Regions from separate parts of the Homo sapiens genome. Here all the other regions are reported to be linked to region 5. Evidence: microRNA targets listed by miRTarBase, many of them from high-throughput screens and not tested one by one. Region 5 holds a microRNA gene; each other region holds the end of a gene's coding sequence.

Region 1 (4,416 bases), not on the chromosome of region 5:
CATAGTCTTAGGAGGGTTCCTCAGTTGCACACCAGGTAATGGGAGGTAAGGCTAACAATGTCATGAAGAAAGAACGTAAGCCATGCCAATGAACTCCACATAGGCAAGGAGTGGGCACACAGGTGAGGAAAGGGAGGAGACATGGCAGTTGACGAGTTGGCAGACAGGCCAGTGGCAGAGAGGGTAGATGTGGCTGAATGCATGGCGTCTTCATTATAAAAGCCCAGTTTTTGCAATATGGGTCATGTTCATTCTTTTTAATTTCATTGAACTTTTCGATGCATGTATATATTTTGCCATGTTTGAGTATCTTGGAAACTTGCTTCTGAAGTTAATGTGGTAAATCCTACCTAGTTTATAACTGCATATAATAGTGATTCAAGTTAACATGTATTGTACCTTTAATATGTGCTGGGCATAATAAGTGTATTATGCGTCATTATTTTGTCATTAATTTCTAAAATAATCTTGTTAGGTGGTCACTGAGACTAAAGGATATTTGGTCACTTGCCCAAAGTCATATAGCTAGTTGGTAAAGCCAGAGCTTTGACTCACAACCAAGGCTGTTTGACATCCTATCTCAAACTCCTAACCAGTATGACTATTGTCTCTATTTTTTAGACTAGACTGACCTCTGTGTATAAAATTTAGGGATAAGCATTTAATGACAACTTGAATGTACTTAAATATAAAACTTGTATACATAATTTTTTATTTATATGGAGCACTAGAAATGTAAACTATACTGACTTTATGGTATGGTTGTGATATAGACCAATCATTTGCATTTTCTGTGTGTAGGAATCCATTAGAGGACACACTGGTTAAAAATTAAACATAAAAGGTAAATAAAAATAAATTTTATGTTCATATATTTAAGTTGTTTAAAACTATAATGCAATTCATTTTTTAAAAAATTTTACAGAAATTGCATCGATGTAATCAGAATGAAGACCGCATGCCATCCCAAGATTATGTCCTCACTTATAACTATGAGGGAAGAGGATCTCCAGCTGGTTCTGTGGGCTGCTGCAGTGAAAAGCAGGAAGAAGATGGCCTTGACTTTTTAAATAATTTGGAACCCAAATTTATTACATTAGCAGAAGCATGCACAAAGAGATAATGTCACAGTGCTACAATTAGGTCTTTGTCAGACATTCTGGAGGTTTCCAAAAATAATATTGTAAAGTTCAATTTCAACATGTATGTATATGATGATTTTTTTCTCAATTTTGAATTATGCTACTCACCAATTTATATTTTTAAAGCAAGTTGTTGCTTATCTTTTCCAAAAAGTGAAAAATGTTAAAACAGACAACTGGTAAATCTCAAACTCCAGCACTGGAATTAAGGTCTCTAAAGCATCTGCTCTTTTTTTTTTTTACGGATATTTTAGTAATAAATATGCTGGATAAATATTAGTCCAACAATAGCTAAGTTATGCTAATATCACATTATTATGTATTCACTTTAAGTGATAGTTTAAAAAATAAACAAGAAATATTGAGTATCACTATGTGAAGAAAGTTTTGGAAAAGAAACAATGAAGACTGAATTAAATTAAAAATGTTGCAGCTCATAAAGAATTGGGACTCACCCCTACTGCACTACCAAATTCATTTGACTTTGGAGGCAAAATGTGTTGAAGTGCCCTATGAAGTAGCAATTTTCTATAGGAATATAGTTGGAAATAAATGTGTGTGTGTATATTATTATTAATCAATGCAATATTTAAAATGAAATGAGAACAAAGAGGAAAATGGTAAAAACTTGAAATGAGGCTGGGGTATAGTTTGTCCTACAATAGAAAAAAGAGAGAGCTTCCTAGGCCTGGGCTCTTAAATGCTGCATTATAACTGAGTCTATGAGGAAATAGTTCCTGTCCAATTTGTGTAATTTGTTTAAAATTGTAAATAAATTAAACTTTTCTGGTTTCTGTGGGAAGGAAATAGGGAATCCAATGGAACAGTAGCTTTGCTTTGCAGTCTGTTTCAAGATTTCTGCATCCACAAGTTAGTAGCAAACTGGGGAATACTCGCTGCAGCTGGGGTTCCCTGCTTTTTGGTAGCAAGGGTCCAGAGATGAGGTGTTTTTTTCGGGGAGCTAATAACAAAAACATTTTAAAACTTACCTTTACTGAAGTTAAATCCTCTATTGCTGTTTCTATTCTCTCTTATAGTGACCAACATCTTTTTAATTTAGATCCAAATAACCATGTCCTCCTAGAGTTTAGAGGCTAGAGGGAGCTGAGGGGAGGATCTTACTGAAAGCACCCTGGGGAGATTGATTGTCCTTAAACCTAAGCCCCACAAACTTGACACCTGATCAGGTCTGGGAGCTACAAAATTTCATTTTTCTCCTCACTGCCCTTCTTCTGAGTGGCATTGGCCTGAATCAAGGAAAGCCAGGCCTTGTGGGCCCCCTTCTTTCGGCTTTCTGCTAAAGCAACACCTCCAGCAGAGATTCCCTTAAGTGACTCCAGGTTTTCCACCATCCTTCAGCGTGAATTAATTTTTAATCAGTTTGCTTTCTCCAGAGAAATTTTAAAATAATAGAAGAAATAGAAATTTTGAATGTATAAAAGAAAAAGATCAAGTTGTCATTTTAGAACAGAGGGAACTTTGGGAGAAAGCAGCCCAAGTAGGTTATTTGTACAGTCAGAGGGCAACAGGAAGATGCAGGCCTTCAAGGGCAAGGAGAGGCCACAAGGAATATGGGTGGGAGTAAAAGCAACATCGTCTGCTTCATACTTTTTCCTAGGCTTGGCACTGCCTTTTCCTTTCTCAGGCCAATGGCAACTGCCATTTGAGTCCGGTGAGGGATCAGCCAACCTCTTCTCTATGGCTCACCTTATTTGGAGTGAGAAATCAAGGAGACAGAGCTGACTGCATGATGAGTCTGAAGGCATTTGCAGGATGAGCCTGAACTGGTTGTGCAGAACAAACAAGGCATTCATGGGAATTGTTGTATTCCTTCTGCAGCCCTCCTTCTGGGCACTAAGAAGGTCTATGAATTAAATGCCTATCTAAAATTCTGATTTATTCCTACATTTTCTGTTTTCTAATTTGACCCTAAAATCTATGTGTTTTAGACTTAGACTTTTTATTGCCCCCCCCCCCCCCTTTTTTTTTTGAGACGGAGTCTCGCTCTGACGCACAGGCTGGAGTGCAGTGGCTCCGATCTCTGCTCACTGAAAGCTCCGCCTCCCGGGTTCACGCCATTCTCCTGCCTCAGCCTCCTGAGTAGCTGGGACTACAGGCGCCCACCACCACGCCCGGCTAATTTTTTGTATTTTTAATAGAGACGGGGTTTCACTGTGTTAGCCAGGATGGTCTCGATCTCCTGACCTCGTGATCCGCCTGCCTCGGCCTCCCAAAGTGCTGGGATTACAGGCATGACCCACCGCTCCCGGCCTTGTTTTCCGTTTAAAGTCGTCTTCTTTTAATGTAATCATTTTGAACATGTGTGAAAGTTGATCATACGAATTGGATCAATCTTGAAATACTCAACCAAAAGACAGTCGAGAAGCCAGGGGGAGAAAGAACTCAGGGCACAAAATATTGGTCTGAGAATGGAATTCTCTGTAAGCCTAGTTGCTGAAATTTCCTGCTGTATCCAGAAGCCAGTTTTATCTAACGGCTACTGAAACACCCACTGTGTTTTGCTCACTCCCTCACTCACCGATCAAAACCTGCTACCTCCCCAAGACTTTACTAGTGCCGATAAACTTTCTCAAAGAGCAACCAGTATCACTTCCCTGTTTATAAAACCTCTAACCATCTCTTTGTTCTTTGAACATGCTGAAAACCACCTGGTCTGCATGTATGCCCGAATTTGTAATTCTTTTCTCTCAAATGAAAATTTAATTTTAGGGATTCATTTCTATATTTTCACATATGTAGTATTATTATTTCCTTATATGTGTAAGGTGAAATTTATGGTATTTGAGTGTGCAAGAAAATATATTTTTAAAGCTTTCATTTTTCCCCCAGTGAATGATTTAGAATTTTTTATGTAAATATACAGAATGTTTTTTCTTACTTTTATAAGGAAGCAGCTGTCTAAAATGCAGTGGGGTTTGTTTTGCAATGTTTTAAACAGAGTTTTAGTATTGCTATTAAAAGAAGTTACTTTGCTTTTAAAGAAACTTGGCTGCTTAAAATAAGCAAAAATTGGATGCGTAAAGTAATATTTACAGATGTGGGGAGATGTAATAAAACAATATTAACTTGGTTTCTTGTTTTTGCTGTATTTAGAGATTAAATAATTCTAAGATGATCACTTTGCAAAATTATGCTTATGGCTGGCATGGAAATAGAAATAATTATGTCTTTGTTGTATTAATGGGGAATATTTTGGACAATGTTTCATTATCAAATTGTCGACATCATTAATATATATTGTAATGTTGGGAAG
Region 2 (3,000 bases), not on the chromosome of region 5:
ACGTGGGAAGAGGGGGGCATTTCAGGGCTGCTCAAACCAAAATCCTGTGTGATAAAAACACCTGTGCTCCCGTCCCTGCCCAGGCCATTAAAAACAACGCTGGCTTCCGCGTGTGGATCCTCTTCTTCCTCGTGATGTGCTCCTTCTCCTTGCTCTTCCTCGACTGGTACGACAGCTAGCCAGGGCCACGGGGGCCCAGCACGAGAGTCCTCATGGGCACTCACAGACTGCGTGCTTTCATGTACTTCCAGTGCTGGAGCATGGTATGACCAGATTTTATCACAGTGCCATTTGAAGGGAAAGGAGTTCAGACAGACAGACGTATTCCCCAAAAAGGGATACCCCAGGCCGATGGTGTTCAGCCATTTAGCAGCTGAAAAAGGAAACAGTGCACACCAATGGGAGGCAGCCTGCGTAGCCCTCATCAGGCAAGACAGACTGAATGCAGGAGTGGGTGATTAGCTGCTCCTTGAACTTGAGGCTGCCTTGGCAGCAGGGGCACAGCAGGCCTCAAGAGCCCCTAATTGTCTCAGGGTTCAAAGGAAGACACTGACCTTTCCCATCCCGGTAGCTTCAGGGAAGATCATAGTTAATAACGTCTCTCAACAAATGATTACTTCTTTGTTTCCTTGTGGCTTCTTGTCTGTCTGAGTCAACGAATACACAGACTTACTGGATTATAGAAGAGAAAATTCACATCTGCCTTGTTAATCTAATAAATATAATTACAGCCCCTTAATGTGTTGTCAATGAGTCTAAGTTGACAAATTCAGTGGCAGCCCAGCCACCTCCTATCAATCAATCAGGGAAGAAATGCAGGGGAGACTGGGGCCCTCAGTGAGGGGCTGCCTGGCATTACTCCTCCAAAGACTGCTGCCCCCAGAACAGGCAGGGGGTGTGGGAGGGCCAGTTTCCCGCCACTGGGTCCAAGGAGCCTTTGTTCAAAGGAAGAAGTGGGCCACGGAAGAACGGGCCTGCTTCTCTCGTGCCTGTGCTTCTGACCTCCAGGAACTGTAAACAGGAACACCTATGTGTAACTGAAGGCATGAGACATCTGTACAGGAAGCATCCCAGCGCCCACATGGGCATGAGACAGTCTGCACTGCGCCTGGTGAAATGCGTGTGTGTACAGACAGTCCACTGGGCAGCACAGGTATCCTCATGTTCTTTATTTGCACAGAGTGAAATGTCAGAAGTTACATGTAAATGAATTCACAGTCAATAAAGTCCACGTCTACCTGGAAATACAGGCTCGGCCTCTGCACTGTGCGCACACGGGCTTCACTTGTGTCTATTCAGATGCGCAGGGAAGCTTTGGCACTGATTTATTGCTCTTGAGTCATTTTCCACAGCTTAACACCACCCTTCTCAGCACACGCCTCTGATGCACACCGCTGCGCCAAGGTCACGGTCTGTGTCTCCAGACACCCTTGATGAGAAAATACATTTTCTGTCTTAGAAGCACATTTCAGGAAACAAGAGTGGCGCTGACCACGGTCACCATGCCTGTTCACAACACATCTCACACTATTTGTCGTTTATTTCTGATCTAAAAAACTGAAACTTTTGACACGTACACCAGAAACAACACATTCAATAACATAGAAGAAATGTCTGCGAATGTCTTTTCTATTTGTTTTACACACTTAGTTCATCTAACTGGCAGTTTTGTAAACATAAACTTTAATATCAAGATTCAAACTGGAACAATTTTCTTACAAAGATTGTGAGTTGAAATTTGTCATTTTGTTTGCACGGTGCCACACCAGTCCCCCACCCCCACCCCACAGCCTTTCCTGCCTGTTTCCCACATCAAGGGATATCAGTTTCATAGAATAAAAATTAAAGTAGCTCAAGCTTACCAGAAATTACATTTCCACTTTTCCCACCCAGCTCATTTCTTTAAAAACTAATGGGGCTATTGGTGCAAATTTATTCATAATAGAAGTGAACCAGAGGGCCAGTGGGGGCTCTTTCCTATCAGCACATCACAGAGCAGACAGACTACCTGCAGGGAGAGTTCTGCACCTCACGGGCCCAGGGCCGTCTCTTCCCAGCCCTCTCCCTCACATGCTCTGCCAGTCTACACACACTGGAGCAAACCCCAGCTGTCTCCACCCAGATGGGTGGTGCCCCTCCCTCCTTACCAAGATGCCAGAGTCAGAGGGGAGGGAGTAGTCAATCCACACCGAGCCTGCCACATTGCAGGGCCGTCCCACCCCGACTCAGGAGTCAGCACAGGGAGGGGTGGGGGGGTCTTTTTCCTCGTTCTCTATGCCACTTACTTACTACAGTGCACCTTGGCAGCAGTCAGCACTGTTACCCGCTGATGGCCGAGGAAGAAATGCGAAGTAGGCTTGCTCTTAGCACAGCGAGAGATCACTCTAGATATGGCTATGGAGGAAGGTTTGCAGACAGCAGGGTCGGTTCAGAAAATCAATTCCACAAAATGCATTTATCTGAGATCCAAACCCTTCGCATATCCAGTGTAAATTTATTTTTTTACAGCATCCAATAAATCCCAGTAAAGGAGCTAAATGAAGATCTTAACATGAAAAGTGGTGTCAGAGCTCTTTAGGCAATGCTGAAATGCACTTGATTTTATGCCCGTGGGTGGTCGGCAGCAAGTTTTATTTGCAAAGCAGCATTAGCAAACAGAAGCAATTGCACCGTAAATGAGTAACCTCTAAAGTATCAGTAATTATATTTAATGAAATGTCCCTCAAAGTCCCTTTGTTATTTGCAAGTGACACATTGTAAGGAACTTGCCCATCCCGCTAAGCTGACTTCTCAGCCGCTTCAGTCTCCTGCTCGGACAGCTTCTCTTCTGACAGAACTGACATCCAGGGCGATACGGAGCGCGTGATGCTCTGCTTGGCCAGGTTGTAGTGGTTTATGACTGTGTAAAATTTCTCCCGGGCACTGGAGTCTTGCTCCGCGTAGTAGCTCTCCAAGCCTTCTGGGATGCACTGGGTGTTCTGAAAGACAAGAGGCCACTGA
Region 3 (4,416 bases), not on the chromosome of region 5:
CAGGGTCTCACTCTTATCCAGGCTGGAATGCAGTAGTACGATTATGGCTCACTGCAGCCTCAACCTCCCAGGTTCAAGTGATCCTACTGCCTGTCAGCCTTCCAAGTAGCTAGGACCCACTATGCCCAGCTAATTTTTTATTTTTTTGTGGAGACAGGGTCTCCCTATGTTGTTCAGGTTGGTCTCAACCTCCTGGGCTCAAGCCATCCTCCTCCCTCAGCCTCCCAAAGTGCTGGGATTACAAGTGTGAGCCTGGACACAGTTATTTTTTTTTAATTGCAGCATACTCAGAAATTAATAGATCATGGCATAAACCTAATAATGACTGTATAGTTGCATTTTGTCAGCACTTATTATAGAGTTCTTACATGTTACCTGATAAAATATATATTTTTCAAGCCAGACACAGTGGTTTATGCCTGTAGTTCTAGTGCTTTGGGAGGCCAGGGCTGCAGTGAGCTATTACAGTGCCACTGCAATCCAGCCTGGGCAACAGAGCGAGGTCCCGTTTCTTAAAAAACATATATGTGTGTGGCGTGTGTATATATATGTATATATATTTTTTCATTGTATTATTACGGAGACTTTCAAACATATATAGAAAGAGCATAATGAAGCCTGCATGTGCCCAGCTTCAATAATTACCAATATCTTGCCAGTTTTGTTTCGTTTCTCCTTTTATTCTCTGTATTGAGCAAGTCTTAGACATCATACGTTTCACGCGTAAGTACCTTATTCTACATCATTAACCAGTAAGGACTTTTTAATTAACCACAATACCACTATCACACCTAATAATAGTAATTCCTTATGGATCTTTTCTTTAGACCTATTTTTGAAGGCATAAAAGCAGTTGAGTTTCTGGAGAATTTTTGGATGGTGATTAATGACTTGACTGGCTGCTCTTCCCAGAGCTGTGGCAGCTCTCCCGTAGAAGATGGGGTTTGTATTGGCGCACCAAGATCTCCAACAGCCAGTGTGTGTTTCCCATCTCTTGTAGGTTCCATCAATGGTGAGCACCAGCCTGAATGCAGAAGCGCTCCAGTATCTCCAAGGGTACCTTCAGGCAGCCAGTGTGACACTGCTTTAAACTGCATTTTTCTAATGGGCTAAACCCAGATGGTTTCCTAGGAAATCACAGGCTTCTGAGCACAGCTGCATTAAAACAAAGGAAGTTCTCCTTTTGAACTTGTCACGAATTCCATCTTGTAAAGGATATTAAATGTTGCTTTAACCTGAACCTTGAGCAAATTAGTTGGTTTGTGTGATCATACAGTTATGTGGGTGGCTTCTAGTTTGCAACTTCAAGGGACAAGTATTAATAGTTCAGTGTATGGCGTTGGTTTGTGTTGAGCGTTTGCACGGTTTGGATAATCTTAAATTTTGACGGACACTGTGGAGACTTTCTGTTACTAAATCCTTTTGTTTTGAAGCTGTTGCTATTTGTATTTCTCTTGTCCTTTATATTTTTTGTCTGTTTATTTACGCTTTTATTGGAAATGTGAATAAGTAAAGAATTACTTGTGTTACTTGCCAAGCAGTGCACATTTCATAGTTTCAAATCTGTAATCAGCAATAAAAATCCTAAAATATGTACCTAAGAACATCTTAAGGGCAGGTTTTCAGTGCTCTCTCATGCTTTTATAAAAATGAAGAATTTCTTTAAATTTCTTCCTTTTCCTTTCCTGGACTCTGTAAAATCCTAATTTCTAAATCATGTAAACTCAGATTATTTAGTCTTTTTTTTTATATGGGGGAAGGGGACATTAATATAGATTTGGGGCTTATTTACTAGAATTTTCTGTAGCAGTTCCTAGGTGGCAGTGTGAGTTTTGGGTAGGTGGCTCCTCTGGGAGAAATGCTCTGCCTCGCTTAATGGGATGGCGGTCGAGAGTACTTGAGACTGTGGATGTTTTGATCTCTTTCATCTCTGCTGTTCCCTGGAGAGTGGAGGTTACTTGGAACTTTTCAAACCCTGACACCTTAGAACCGTGAAGTCCAGTCCAGTGGTGGATCCGGCCGGATGCCTGGTGAGCTTGGTTGCACTGGCTCCCTCCCTTGGCCTGGCCCATGGAATTGTACAGCATTCGTTTCTGAGGAATGAAGAATCAGAATATCTAAATTTTGTGAGGCACAGTTTATGCTGGAATTGTTCATTGTCCATTCAGTGTAGTTAAACTGGAACTTTTGTCTTCCCAGCTCAAGTGATTTGTCACAGGAGTTATCGATATCCCTTTTTTTTTTCTTTTTTACCCCCAAGATAAGAGTCTTGTTCTGTTGACCAGGCTGGAGTGCAGTGGCACAATCTCAGTTCACTGCAACCTCCACTTCCTGGGTTTGAGCAATTCTCCTGCCTCAGCCTCTCGAGTAGCTGGGATTACAGGCGTCCGCCACCACGCCCAGCTAATTTTTGTATTTTTATTAGAGATGGGGTTTCACCATATTTGTCAGGCTGGTCTCGAACTCCTGACCTCATGATCTGCCTGCCTCGGCCTCCCAAAGTGCTGGGATTACACGCGTGAGCCACTGTGCCTGGTGATAACTTTTTTAATCTTAGGCACTTGACTCGAATGGTTTTTCTTATTTTGAATTTTTTTTTTTTTTTTTTTTTTTTTTTTTGAGACGGAGTCTCACTCTTGCCCAGGCTGGAGTGCAGTGGCACAATCTCAGCTGACTGCAACCTCCGCCTCCCAGGTTCAAGCGATTCTCCTGCCTCAGCCTCCTGAGTAGCTGGGATACAGGCATGCATCACCATGCCTGGCTATTTTTTGTATTTTTAGTAGAGACAGGGTTTCACCATGTTGGCCAGGCTGGTTTCAAACTCCTGACCTTGTGATCCGCCTGCCTCGGCTTACCAAAGTGCTGGGATTAGAGGCTTGAGCCACTGTGCCCAGCCACTTGTTTCTGTAATGTTGCATGAGAAATTTCAAGTTCTCTTAAGTCTATTTGTACCATCTAGTCATTTAAGGGCTTTTTGTTGTTGTTGTTGTTGTTGTTGTTGTTGTTGTTGTTGTTGGTTTTGACACAGTAATGGGAATACTACATTTTACGTTATTACTTTGGCTTAAGTGGTCGTTGGTAGAAAGATACTGAAATATTACTGAAGCCATTTTTAAGCCACAATTTATTTGGAAAGTCTGGGACAACAGGGAATTGCTAGTGATGGTTTCTGTATGTTTTTCACTCACATGAGCTCCTTAAGTATTTATTTGGCTTTGCTCTTCCTGAAGCTGCTTGTGAACAGTCAGTCAGATACCGTTCTGGAGGCTGCTTGATTCAACATCTTAAACTCAGATCGAGTTCGAAACGTTTTCCTTCTTCAGTTCAAAAGGCTGAGTAGTAGATGGTGTGCCTTTTAAAATAGTTACTGAACAGCAAGACTAGTACATTTACTTACTTTAGCACAGTTCATTAATTATCAAATAATTTTTTTAAATGCCTTCTATTGAAGTTGCTTATTCAATCGTCCAAGACAGTTTTTATATCTGGCTTTAAAGATTTTAGGACATGGTGGACAGAAACTGCTGGAGTGGTTTTTTTCTTTTTTCTTCACAAGCCTTACTGACTGTAGCTCAGTGGTGATGCACACTGTGGGTATGAAGATCAGGGTTTGAGTTACAGCACTGCTACTGACTATGACCTTGAGCAAATGAGTTGACCTCTATGCCTTTTTTTTCTCTTCTGAAAAATGAGCATATTATTTACCTTCAAGGTGGTTGTAAGAATAAAATGAGATGATGCATGTAGAGTACTCAAGCAGAGAACCTGTGCAGAGTAAGCACACATCAGGAAAAGCTGCTGGGGGAGCAGAGGGCTTGGGTGGGAGGAAGCGTTTGTTACTGAGCACACTTACCAATGTGCTGCATACCTGGAAGGCGGGAAGGCTTTGTGGAGAAGAGTCCTGGCATGGGCGGCCCCACCTGTACCCCAGGGTGTTTTTACAGAAGGGAAGTATTGCCAGGTTTCTCATCAGAGCTTCCTGCTAGGTGCATTCATTCTCCATGGTATTCAATCATGTCTTTTAACAAGCTGATTTTTAAATAATTGAGTTTTTAAATTATTTTTATGTATTTATTTTTTTGAGATGGAGTCTTGCTCAGCCCAGGCTGAAGTGCAGAGGCGTGATCTCGGCTCACTGCAACCTCCACCTCCTGGTTTCAAGTGATTCCCCAGCCTCAGCCTCCCGAGTAGCTGGAATTACAGGCACGCGCCACCACGCCCAGCTAACTTTTGTATTTTTAGTAGAGACAGGGTTTCACCATGTTTTGTCAGGCTGGTCTCAAACTCCTGACCTCAAGTGATCCACCTGCCTCGGCCTCCCAAAGTGCTGGGAGTACAGGTGTGAGCCACCACATCTGGCCACCGACTTTTTATTTTAAATGTATTTTCTTTGTGGGAAACTTGGAAAATAAAGAA
Region 4 (4,403 bases), not on the chromosome of region 5:
GTCTCACTCTGTTGCCCAAGCTGGAATGCAGTGACATGATCATGGCTCACTGTAGCCTTGACCTCCTGGGCTCAGGTGATCCTCCCACCTCAGCATCCTGAGTAGCTGGGACTGCAGGGGTGCACCACCACGCCCAGCTAATTGCTGTATTTTTAGTAGAGACATGGTTTTGCCTTGTTGGCCAGGCTGGTCTTGAACTCCTGGCTTCAAGTGATCTGCCCGCCTCAGCCTCCCAAAGTGGTGGGATTACAGGCATGAGCCACCCCGCCTGGCCCCTAGTCTGGTCTTGAACTCCTGGGCTCAAGCAATTCACCTGCCTCGGCCTTCCAAAGTGCTGGGATTAATGGTGTAAACCACCACGCCCTGCTCAATTTTTGAAATGTTTTGTAGAGATGAGGGTCTCTCTATGTTGCCCAGGCTGGTCTCGAATTCCTGGCTTCAAGCCATCCTCCTGTCTTGGCCTCCCAAGGTGCTGGGATTACACTATGCCTGGCCTAAAATATTTTAAAAATTTGATGCATACATTGACATATACTAATTTATATTACAGTACCAGTGGCAAAACATTTTGAATATTACCCTTCCTTCGTGAATGTCCAATGAGACATCTGGAAGCTGCATGAGACAAGGGATGATGCTGTACTGTGTGGAGATTCCTGAATATTACAAGACATCTGCATCCCTGGACCACGTCTGCCAAGAGCCAAGAGCAGCTTCCAGTCATGATGATAATGCAAATCATCCCCATGCATTCCAGAATCCTCCCTGTGGACCTGCCAAGTCTCTTTGTGAACCATTTTTGGGTTCAGTGGTTAAAAGCAGGGGTTGGGTTACAAGAAGTCAGGCTTTGGATGTCTGAGCCTCAGGAGACTCGGCCAAACAGTAATCTTCTCTTGCTGGTCTATGAAGCCTCCTCCTCCCAGGAATGTACAATTGTGAAATATTACCAATCTCCCCAGTTTACAGGTTCAGAGAGGCAGCGACTTGTCTGAGAGTACAAAGAAACCAAGTGGCCAAGCCAGGATTCAAACCCAGCCAGACTCTGGGCCCCTTTACCGCGAACACACTCCTGTGGGAGGAGCGATCTCATTGCTTCCACTTCCCAAATGCAAGGTGGGGGCGCAGAGACAGAGTCAATAGAGGCCCTGGGAGAAGGTGGCAGCACTGGGAAACCCGGTCCTCTCCAACCTCAAGCCCATGTCTTTTCTTTTTTTCTTTTTTTTTGTGGGGGGATGGGATAATGCTCTGTTGCCGAGGCTGGAGTGCAGAGGTGCAATCAGAGCTCACTGCAGTCTTGATCTCCTAGGCTTAAGCAATCCTCCTGCCTCAGCCTCCCCAGTAGCTAGGACTACAGGTGCATGCCATTATGCCTGGCTGATATGGTTTGGCTGTGTTTCCACCCAAATCTCATCTCGAATTGTAGTTCTGATAATCCCCATGTGTCGTGGGAGGGACTGGGTGCGAGGTAATTGAATCATGGGGGCAGTTACCCCCATGCTATTCTCGTGATAGTGAGTTCTCATGAGATCTAATGGTTTTATAAGGAACTTTCCCCTTTTGCTTGGAACTTCTTCTTCCTGCCATCACAAGATGTGTTTGCTTCCCCTTCTGCCATGATTGTAAGTTTCATGAGGCCTCCCCAGCCGTGCTGAACTGTGGGTCGATTAAACCTTTCCTCCTTTATAAATTACCCAGTCTCAGGTAGGTCTTTATTAGTAGCATGAGAAGGGACTAAAACAGTGGCTATTTTTTTATTATTTTGTAGAGACAGGGGATCTCGCTATGTTGCCCAGGCTGATCTTGAACTCTTGGCCTTAAAGGATCCTCCAATTTTGGCTTCCGAAAGTACCGGGATTACAGGCATGAGCCACTGTGCCCAGTCCTTGCTTATTTTTAACATTTTGCCTCTTATTTATTATTTTATTTTTTTGAGATGGAGTCTTGCTCTGTTGCTCAGGCTGGAGGGCGGTGGCACAATCTTGGCTCACTGCAAGCTCCGCCTCCCGGGTTCATGCCATTCTCCTGCCTCAGCCTCCTGAGTAGCTGGGACTACAGGTGCCCGCCACCATGTCCAGCTAATTTTTTGTATTTTTAGTAGAGACGGAGTTTCACTGTGTTAGCCAGGATGGTCTCGATCTCTTGACCTTGTGATCCGTCCGCCTTGGGCTCCCAAAGTGTTGGGATTATAGGCGTGAGCCACCATGCCTGGCTTTATTTATTATTTTTAATTGACAAGAGTCTTGCTCTATTGCTCAGGCTGGTCTCGAACTCCCGAGCTCAAGTGTTCCTCCTGTCTCAGCCTCCCAAAAGTGTTGGGATCACAGGCGTGAGCCACCACGCCCGGCCAGCTTTTTTTTTTTTTTTTTAACCCGTGGTCTTGAATGCTGGGTGCTCACACCTGGGTGTGCAAAAGTCATTGGGATGAGGCAAGAAACATAAAAAAAACCCTATTCATATTCATAATTTTAAAATGGAATAATTTAAGCTTTATTACTAACATACAGATAATAGTATCTGTATATATTTATAAATAAATATACACATATTGGGAATACATGCCCAAATACCATTTATTCTTAGGTGCATAATCAAATAAGGAAGGCTGCCATTGCTTTCACCTGCTAAGTGGGTCTCCAAGCCCCTCTTGGGGACCATGACTAGAGAGGGGCATAGTGGGTAAGACAATTGTGGGCTCCAGAGCCTGACCACCTGGGTTCAAGCCCCCGATCTGCCCCTTCCTAAGCTGCCTGACCTTGAGCAAGTGACTTCACGATTCTGGCCTCAGCTTTTTCATCTGTGTAATGAAAATAATAGCAGCTGTCACTTCAGAGGGCTGAGGTGAGGGACGCATTAGTTGATCCAGGTGAAACACTGAGAATGGTGCCTGGTACCCAGTAGGTGCTCAGTGAGTGTGAGCTATGGTTATTGTCTACACTGCCGTGCAAGTGGGGAATTAGGTGCAGACAGCTGAAATAATGAGGTATTAGTCATGAGTGGAGCTGCGATTCAGAAGTCGGTTCTTTTTCTTTTTTAAAAATAGAGACGGGGTCTTGGCATGTTGCCGAGGCTGGTCTCAGACTCCTGGGCTCAAGCGATCCTCCCACCTCGGCCTCCCAAAGTGCTGGGATTACAGGCGTGAGCCCCCGCGCCCGGCCCAGCACCCGGTTCTCGACCACAGCCGCACCTCGGAGCTCTGAGCATTTCCTCCTCTGCAAGACTGAAATACTTCTATTCAGTCTTGAATAGAACAGTTAAGAGTAGCATGCAGGTCACAGGGCTCTCCCAGGAGGGAAGGAGGTCGCAGTCCAAAAGAAGGGGAGGTGGTCACTGCTGTCCGCCTCCCACAGGGGCTTGGAGAGAAGTCCAAAGGCTCAAGAGAGTAGATGGCTATGGAACACAGGCCCTGGGCGTACTGTCGCCCGGGCAGCCACAGTGGGCCACCAGGAGCGGGACCGGCGCGCCCTCTAGTGGCGGAAGCAACCCCTGCAGCCAAGGGTCCCGCATCCTGGAAGCAACTGAGGCACAGAGAGACTGCGACGCCCCCCCAGGCCCACCTGGCTCCGAAGCGATAGAGCCAGGATTTGAATCTCGCCAGTCTGGCTCCAGAGCCTGCACTGTTTCCAAAACTCTGCCCCTGCCCTAGAGCGCAGGGCTCTCGGAATCTTGGGCAGAACACTTTTTTCGGGTCTGGGGCTGTGCTGGGCCCTGCGGGACGGCGTGACATCCCCGTCTCCCTCCATGACTGAGATGACCCAGGATGTCCCCACGCATATCCACGGCTCCCAGTGGGCATGACCATTTGATAAATCTGGAGGTCGCTTCCCATCCTCGTCCTGGTGCTCTCCTCCTGCCAATGCCAGCCTTCTCTCATGCTCTCCTTAGAATTTCTTTCTTGGTCAGTTTCCCCCTTCCCCTCTCCGCGACATCCCTCCACCCCTCACCGCTCACACAGAGCTTCTCCACATCCAGACAGACCCCCGAAAAACAAAGGCGAGGTTATCAGGGCTTCAGCCGCTTCCCGTCAGACTCAGCAGTGCCGGGTTGGGGTACTGGGGGTTCTCGATGACCCCGGGCCCGAACTTGAGCTCCAGGAAGCGGCGGTAGTTGTTAGGCGCCTGCGCCACGAAGCCGGCAAAGGGCAGGGGCACCAGCGGCTGCAGGAAGTGCTCGGGAAACTCCACATCCTGCCGGTGGTCCAGCCACGTGTCCTTGGTCATGACGCCATTGCGGGGGTAGAAGGGCCACAGGTCCACGTGCAAGTGGTTGCTTTCGCTGTACTGCACGCGGAAAAAGTCGCCCTCGACCGCCTTCTCCCATACGAAGCCGCGCTCATCCACCACCGAGCCGGCCTCTGCCCCCCGCAGCTGCTCGCAGTTGCCCACGTCCTCCAAGTAGATGCCCAG
Region 5 (4,403 bases):
ACTAGAGGCTGGAAAGGCCCAGTGGTCTGATTAGAGACCTCTCAGCATCTTACACCAGGGCAGGAGCTTACTTGTCTCTCCTCTTCATTTCCTGCCATATGCTCCCTGCGTCTGCAGCCTGCAGTGGGAAAGGATTCTGGGTCCAAGTGGGCCCTTTTCTGGTGAGGCTCAGGAGAGGCTGCTGGGCCATGGTAGGGACTTAGAGTTTGATTCTGAGTGTGCTGGGAGGCCCTCAGGGGATGTGATTTGGTTTACCTTTTCTAAATGCTCTCTCTGGCTACATGCAGAGCATGGTTTGTAAGGGGCCAGAATGGAAGCAGGAAGACCCGGGGAGGCAAGAAGTCTAGAGAGTTTGGAGAAATAAGTGTTCCTAGAAACAAGGCCCTGCCTCACGCTTCTCATCTTGCCCAGCATCTTTTCCAGAGAAGCAGACACAGCCATCACTGCTGCATCTCCCCCTATGGGAGTCCAAGAAACCCCACCAAGGGACCCCAAGGATTTCAGACTCTTCCTCTGGTGGCCCAAGGTCAAAGTCTGGTTCTCTTCATGCCTGCTGTGTTCCTTTAGTAAACACCCACTTTCCCACCGTCCGGCTTTCCTTGCTCTCGAGAAATGAGTGACATGATGGGGTTGGTATGGCGGAACCAGAGGTTGGAGCCTCATAGTTTTTCTCCAGCCTCCACCCCTCCAGACTCGCACTTTATCGCCCCTCTCAGGGCTCGGTCAGGAAGAGTTTCGGAAGCTGAGTGGTGGTTTCTTCTTTTGGACCAGCCTTATTGAACCCTGTCAGGAAAAGATAGTAATCACGGCAAGGAAGTAGACTGTTTGCAGGAGAACAAAAAGCAGGGGAGGGAGAGGACGAGGAGAAAGGAAAGCAAGTGTGAAGGGAAAGGAGTTGCTATTCTTTCTCAGAGCTAAGTCATCCCCAAAGAATGCCAGTTGTGTCTGCCTGGCCCAGTGCAGGGGGGAGCAAGTTCTTGAAGCAACCTTGAGAATGGCCATTTTAGCAGTGGAATGGAGAGTTTGAGCACTCCAGTGGGGACCCTCTTCCCAGCTCTTACTGGAAGCCCCACCTTAGGTAGTAGGAGAAATACATCTGCCCAATATCTCCTTTCAGATGATCCAGTGAAGATTATTTGTTAGGAAACGGGCTAGACTCCTAGCCTAGGGTCCTGAGAAGAGCAGGGGGGCCATAGGCTGCATGGCAGCAAGAGTCAGGGGCAGGCTGGGTGTGCATTAGTGCTGAGATGATGCACCCAGAAGGGGAATTCGGTTTTTGCGGGGCTTCTGGGACTTGGAAGATTCTTTGTGAAACTGAGGCAGTTGTGACACTGGGAATCACAAGGTCCCAGGAAGGCCCTTGGACTCCCCGTGCCTCTTGCCCTTTGCTCCTTCCCTCAACATGGAGCCCTGGGGGTGATGTTACACCAGTGCCAGAGGCCAATAGAATATTGTCCCCTGAACTCAGTGACCACAGTAGTCCAGAGGCAGCCCTTACTCCCAAGGAAACCAAGAGTTTGGGCCACATTTGTTCTCTAAACTGAGGGTAAACTGAGGCTCCTACTAGAAGAGATGGAGGATGGGCCACCATTATAGGAGCACCTGCCACCCGCCCAGCACTGGCCCAGCACTCTGCCAGGCCTTACATAGCGTCATCCTCAACAAATCCCAGCGAGGCTGGAGACCCTCATGATGCAACAGAGCAATGCCCAGTCTGTGGGGCTGAGGCACTCGCCCAAGGTTAAACAGCTGGAGCAGGGATTTGAACCCCTATTTGTCAGACTCTAGAGCTCAGACTCTTACCCTGACATTTGTCTCATTGCTCTAACCTTAACTGGAGTCTTCTAAAAATGACTCTGGGTGAGTGGGGGGTGGGGGGTGGCAGGACTTGAAATAGGAAGGAGAAAATGAGTGCTGCTTTGGCAGTCTTGAAACTGGCGACTCGTGTAATAGACACAAGGTTGCTGCTGGGGCCCAGCCACCAAAGTTGTCCTGGGGCCTGGAAGGTTATATGCTCAGTCATGATTGACATGGCCTCCAGCCCCAAAAATAACCTTCCATTGATTAGAAGTGTCAGGGTGCATTTTTTAAGATGATGTATTTAAGCATTAGTTGCTTAGGAGGCCCAGGATTGCTCAGGCTGATCCCCAAGGCCCCAGCCACTGTGAGGCGGGTATGAAACAAGCATCCTGACATTAATCCCCTCTAGCCCTGCTGTCTGACTCTTGAGAGCCTCAGGCAGAAACATTTGGAAAAGGCCTTCCCTACTGGTCCCTGCCTAACACTAGAGGGTTGAATAATTATCTGCAGTAATTTTAATAATATATTAATTATTGATAATAATTAACCATCTTCCCAGTATGCCTAGGAGTGGGGTGACCCCGGGCTGCTCTGGTGGGAGCCATGAGGGTCTGTGCTGTCTCTGAGCACCGTCTCTTCTGTTCCCCAGGATCCTGCAGGCCCAGGTGCCTCCTGTGTTCCTCCAACAGCAGCAGCAGTACCAGTACCTGCAGCAATCTCAGGAGCACCCCCCTCCCCCACATCCAGCTGCTCTCGGCCATGGCCCCCTGAGCTCCCTCAGTCCACCTGCTGTGGAGGGGCCAGTGAGTGCCCAGGCCTCCTCAGCCACCTCGGGCAGTGCCCACCTGGCCCAGATGGAGGCCGTGCTGAGGGAGAATGCCAGGCTGCAGAGAGACAATGAGCGGCTGCAGAGGGAGCTGGAGAGCTCTGCGGAGAAGGCTGGCCGCATTGAGAAGGTAGGCCCTGCTGGGGCTTCAGAAGGGCAGACCAGAAAGAGACCCCGAGGGGCTACCTGGGGAGTGGGTAGTCCAAGGAGAGGCAGAGGAGCCTGAAAACTGTTTGGCTGGATTTCTCCCTATCCCTCTGTCTTCCACCTCCCTCACTCCTCATGCACCCTCCTGAGCTGACTCCAGACAGCTGGGGAACAGCCGAGAGGCCGGCAGAGCAGGCCTGGAGCATGAACAGTTGCTGGCCAGTGGTGATTAGAAAGAGCCCATTCACCAGCTCCTTGCACACTCGCACCCTTGCCCTGCACACACCCCCTCCCATGGACACCTCCCACAGAGAGCCCTTTGTGTCCCCCACACAACAGCAAGTCTGTTCCAGGCCAGCCCTGGCCAAAAAGAAAACTTCTCCTCTTGGAAAAAAAATGGGCGACTTGTTGGAATCACAGGCCAGCTAAGAGCACGTGCGGAACCTGCCAGCAGCCAAGTGGGAGGAGCAGCCGGGGCCCAGCTGGCCCTCTGGGTGGATGGTGATGCCTGGGACACCAGGCAGAGGCAGCTCTGCCTGGTGCCCGCTTCTTTAGTGAAGGGTTACCAGTTTTCCGCTGAGGCTCAGTTTTAGCAGATGGCCTCAGGCCTCCCTTGACTGTCCTGTGGTGTCCAAGTTAGGTCAAACCACCCCATCATGGCTGGAGTCTTTCGGTGCCCACTTCTGGCCAACTGTACTCAGTTTCTTGGTGGAAGCCAGCCAAGAGTAGAATGTTTCCTTCTGGACACTGGGCACAGGGAAGCTGTGTTTAGTCACCCCGCAGGCAGCTACTTCCAAAGTACCTGGCCCTGGGTTCACTCAGCATCTGGTCCTTGGGGCAGCCGATGGGACCGTTGCTTGCTGGTCCCAGCAGTCTATTCTACTTCCGGAGGCTACAAGCTTCTGACCATCCCACCATAGTCACCTGGAGGTTTTGCTCCTGTTTGGTGGCCTCTCATCTGTCACCTTTTCTGATGGAGAGTAGTGGGTCAGCCTCGAATCACTCCCTGGGAGCTCTCGCCTTCATTCAGCTCTGCTGTCTGACTCTTGCAGCTGGAAAGCGAAATCCAGCGGCTCTCTGAGGCCCATGAGAGCCTGACCAGAGCCTCCTCCAAGCGTGAGGCCCTGGAGAAGACCATGCGGAACAAGATGGACAGTGAAATGAGGAGGCTGCAAGACTTCAACCGGGATCTTAGAGGTGAGAGCCAGTCACACAGGTGGAGGTTGGAGAACCTCTGCAGAGGACTTACTTCTTTTGTTCTAGAGAAAAATTGGGAATCTCTATTCTCTGTCAAAAGTGCAGATGAACTCAGAGAGCCAGGCTGAGACCCCTTTGGAGCTGCCCTGATAGAGAGATGCTTGTCTCTATGTACTGGGCCTAGGATCCCCTCAGGGATGATGGCTCTTGACAGAGGAGGCTCCCACCCATGGGGCCCTGAGCTGAGCTGGGGTTTCCTTATGAACCCATCCCCAATATGGAGGATACAGCCCCATCCTGATAGGACGTCAGGAAAAATCCCAAGCTGGCAGCTTCACCTGACACTAAAACATCTTTCCTTCCCTTGAAACAGAGAGATTGGAATCTGCAAATCGCCGCCTGGCAAGCAAGACACAGGAGGCCCAGGCCGGCA

The links. Region 5 holds the annotated microRNA hsa-miR-6827-3p (ACCGUCUCUUCUGUUCCCCAG, at 2,429-2,449, shown strand). A microRNA usually pairs through its seed, bases 2 to 8, with sites in the 3' UTR of a target mRNA and lowers its output. Matches are read on the target gene's strand: a 7mer-m8 pairs with bases 2 to 8, a 7mer-A1 pairs with bases 2 to 7 and ends in A, and an 8mer does both.
Region 1: miRTarBase lists DSC3 as a target of hsa-miR-6827-3p. Seed matches in the 3' UTR shown: 8mer at 3,133-3,140 and 7mer-m8 at 3,301-3,307.
Region 2: miRTarBase lists NSG1 as a target of hsa-miR-6827-3p. Seed matches in the 3' UTR shown: 7mer-m8 at 2,044-2,050.
Region 3: miRTarBase lists CSE1L as a target of hsa-miR-6827-3p. The part of its 3' UTR that is shown has no 7-base or 8-base seed match.
Region 4: the mRNA of FKRP is a reported target of hsa-miR-6827-3p. Seed matches in the 3' UTR shown: 7mer-m8 at 3,727-3,733.

Annotation. Positions count from the first base shown.
Region 1 is chr18:30,990,882-30,995,297 of GRCh38, reverse strand. It overlaps DSC3 (desmocollin 3), which reads left to right. Exons shown (of 16, transcript NM_001941.5): 16 at 926-4,416. The coding sequence ends at 1,123. Among named protein-coding and RNA genes, the nearest start is that of DSC3, 50 kb to the left of the region's middle.
Region 2 is chr4:4,417,213-4,420,212 of GRCh38, reverse strand. It overlaps NSG1 (neuronal vesicle trafficking associated 1), which reads right to left. Exons shown (of 5, transcript NM_014392.5): 5 at 1,155-2,978. The coding sequence ends at 2,778. It overlaps STX18 (syntaxin 18), which reads left to right. Exons shown (of 11, transcript NM_016930.4): 11 at 84-1,245. The coding sequence ends at 179. Among named protein-coding and RNA genes, the nearest start is that of NSG1, 32 kb to the right of the region's middle.
Region 3 is chr20:49,095,349-49,099,764 of GRCh38, forward strand. CSE1L (chromosome segregation 1 like) reads left to right here. Exons shown (of 25, transcript NM_001316.4): 25 at 1,001-1,601. The coding sequence ends at 1,090. Among named protein-coding and RNA genes, the nearest start is that of CSE1L, 51 kb to the left of the region's middle.
Region 4 is chr19:46,756,543-46,760,945 of GRCh38, reverse strand. FKRP (fukutin related protein) reads right to left here. Exons shown (of 4, transcript NM_024301.5): 4 at 2,371-4,403. The coding sequence ends at 4,008. Among named protein-coding and RNA genes, the nearest start is that of STRN4, 12 kb to the right of the region's middle.
Region 5 is chr3:134,365,850-134,370,252 of GRCh38, reverse strand. It overlaps MIR6827 (microRNA 6827), which reads left to right and starts at 2,391; the gene lies at 2,391-2,449. AMOTL2 (angiomotin like 2) reads left to right here. Exons shown (of 10, transcript NM_016201.4): 3 at 2,450-2,756; 4 at 3,826-3,970; 5 at 4,344-4,403.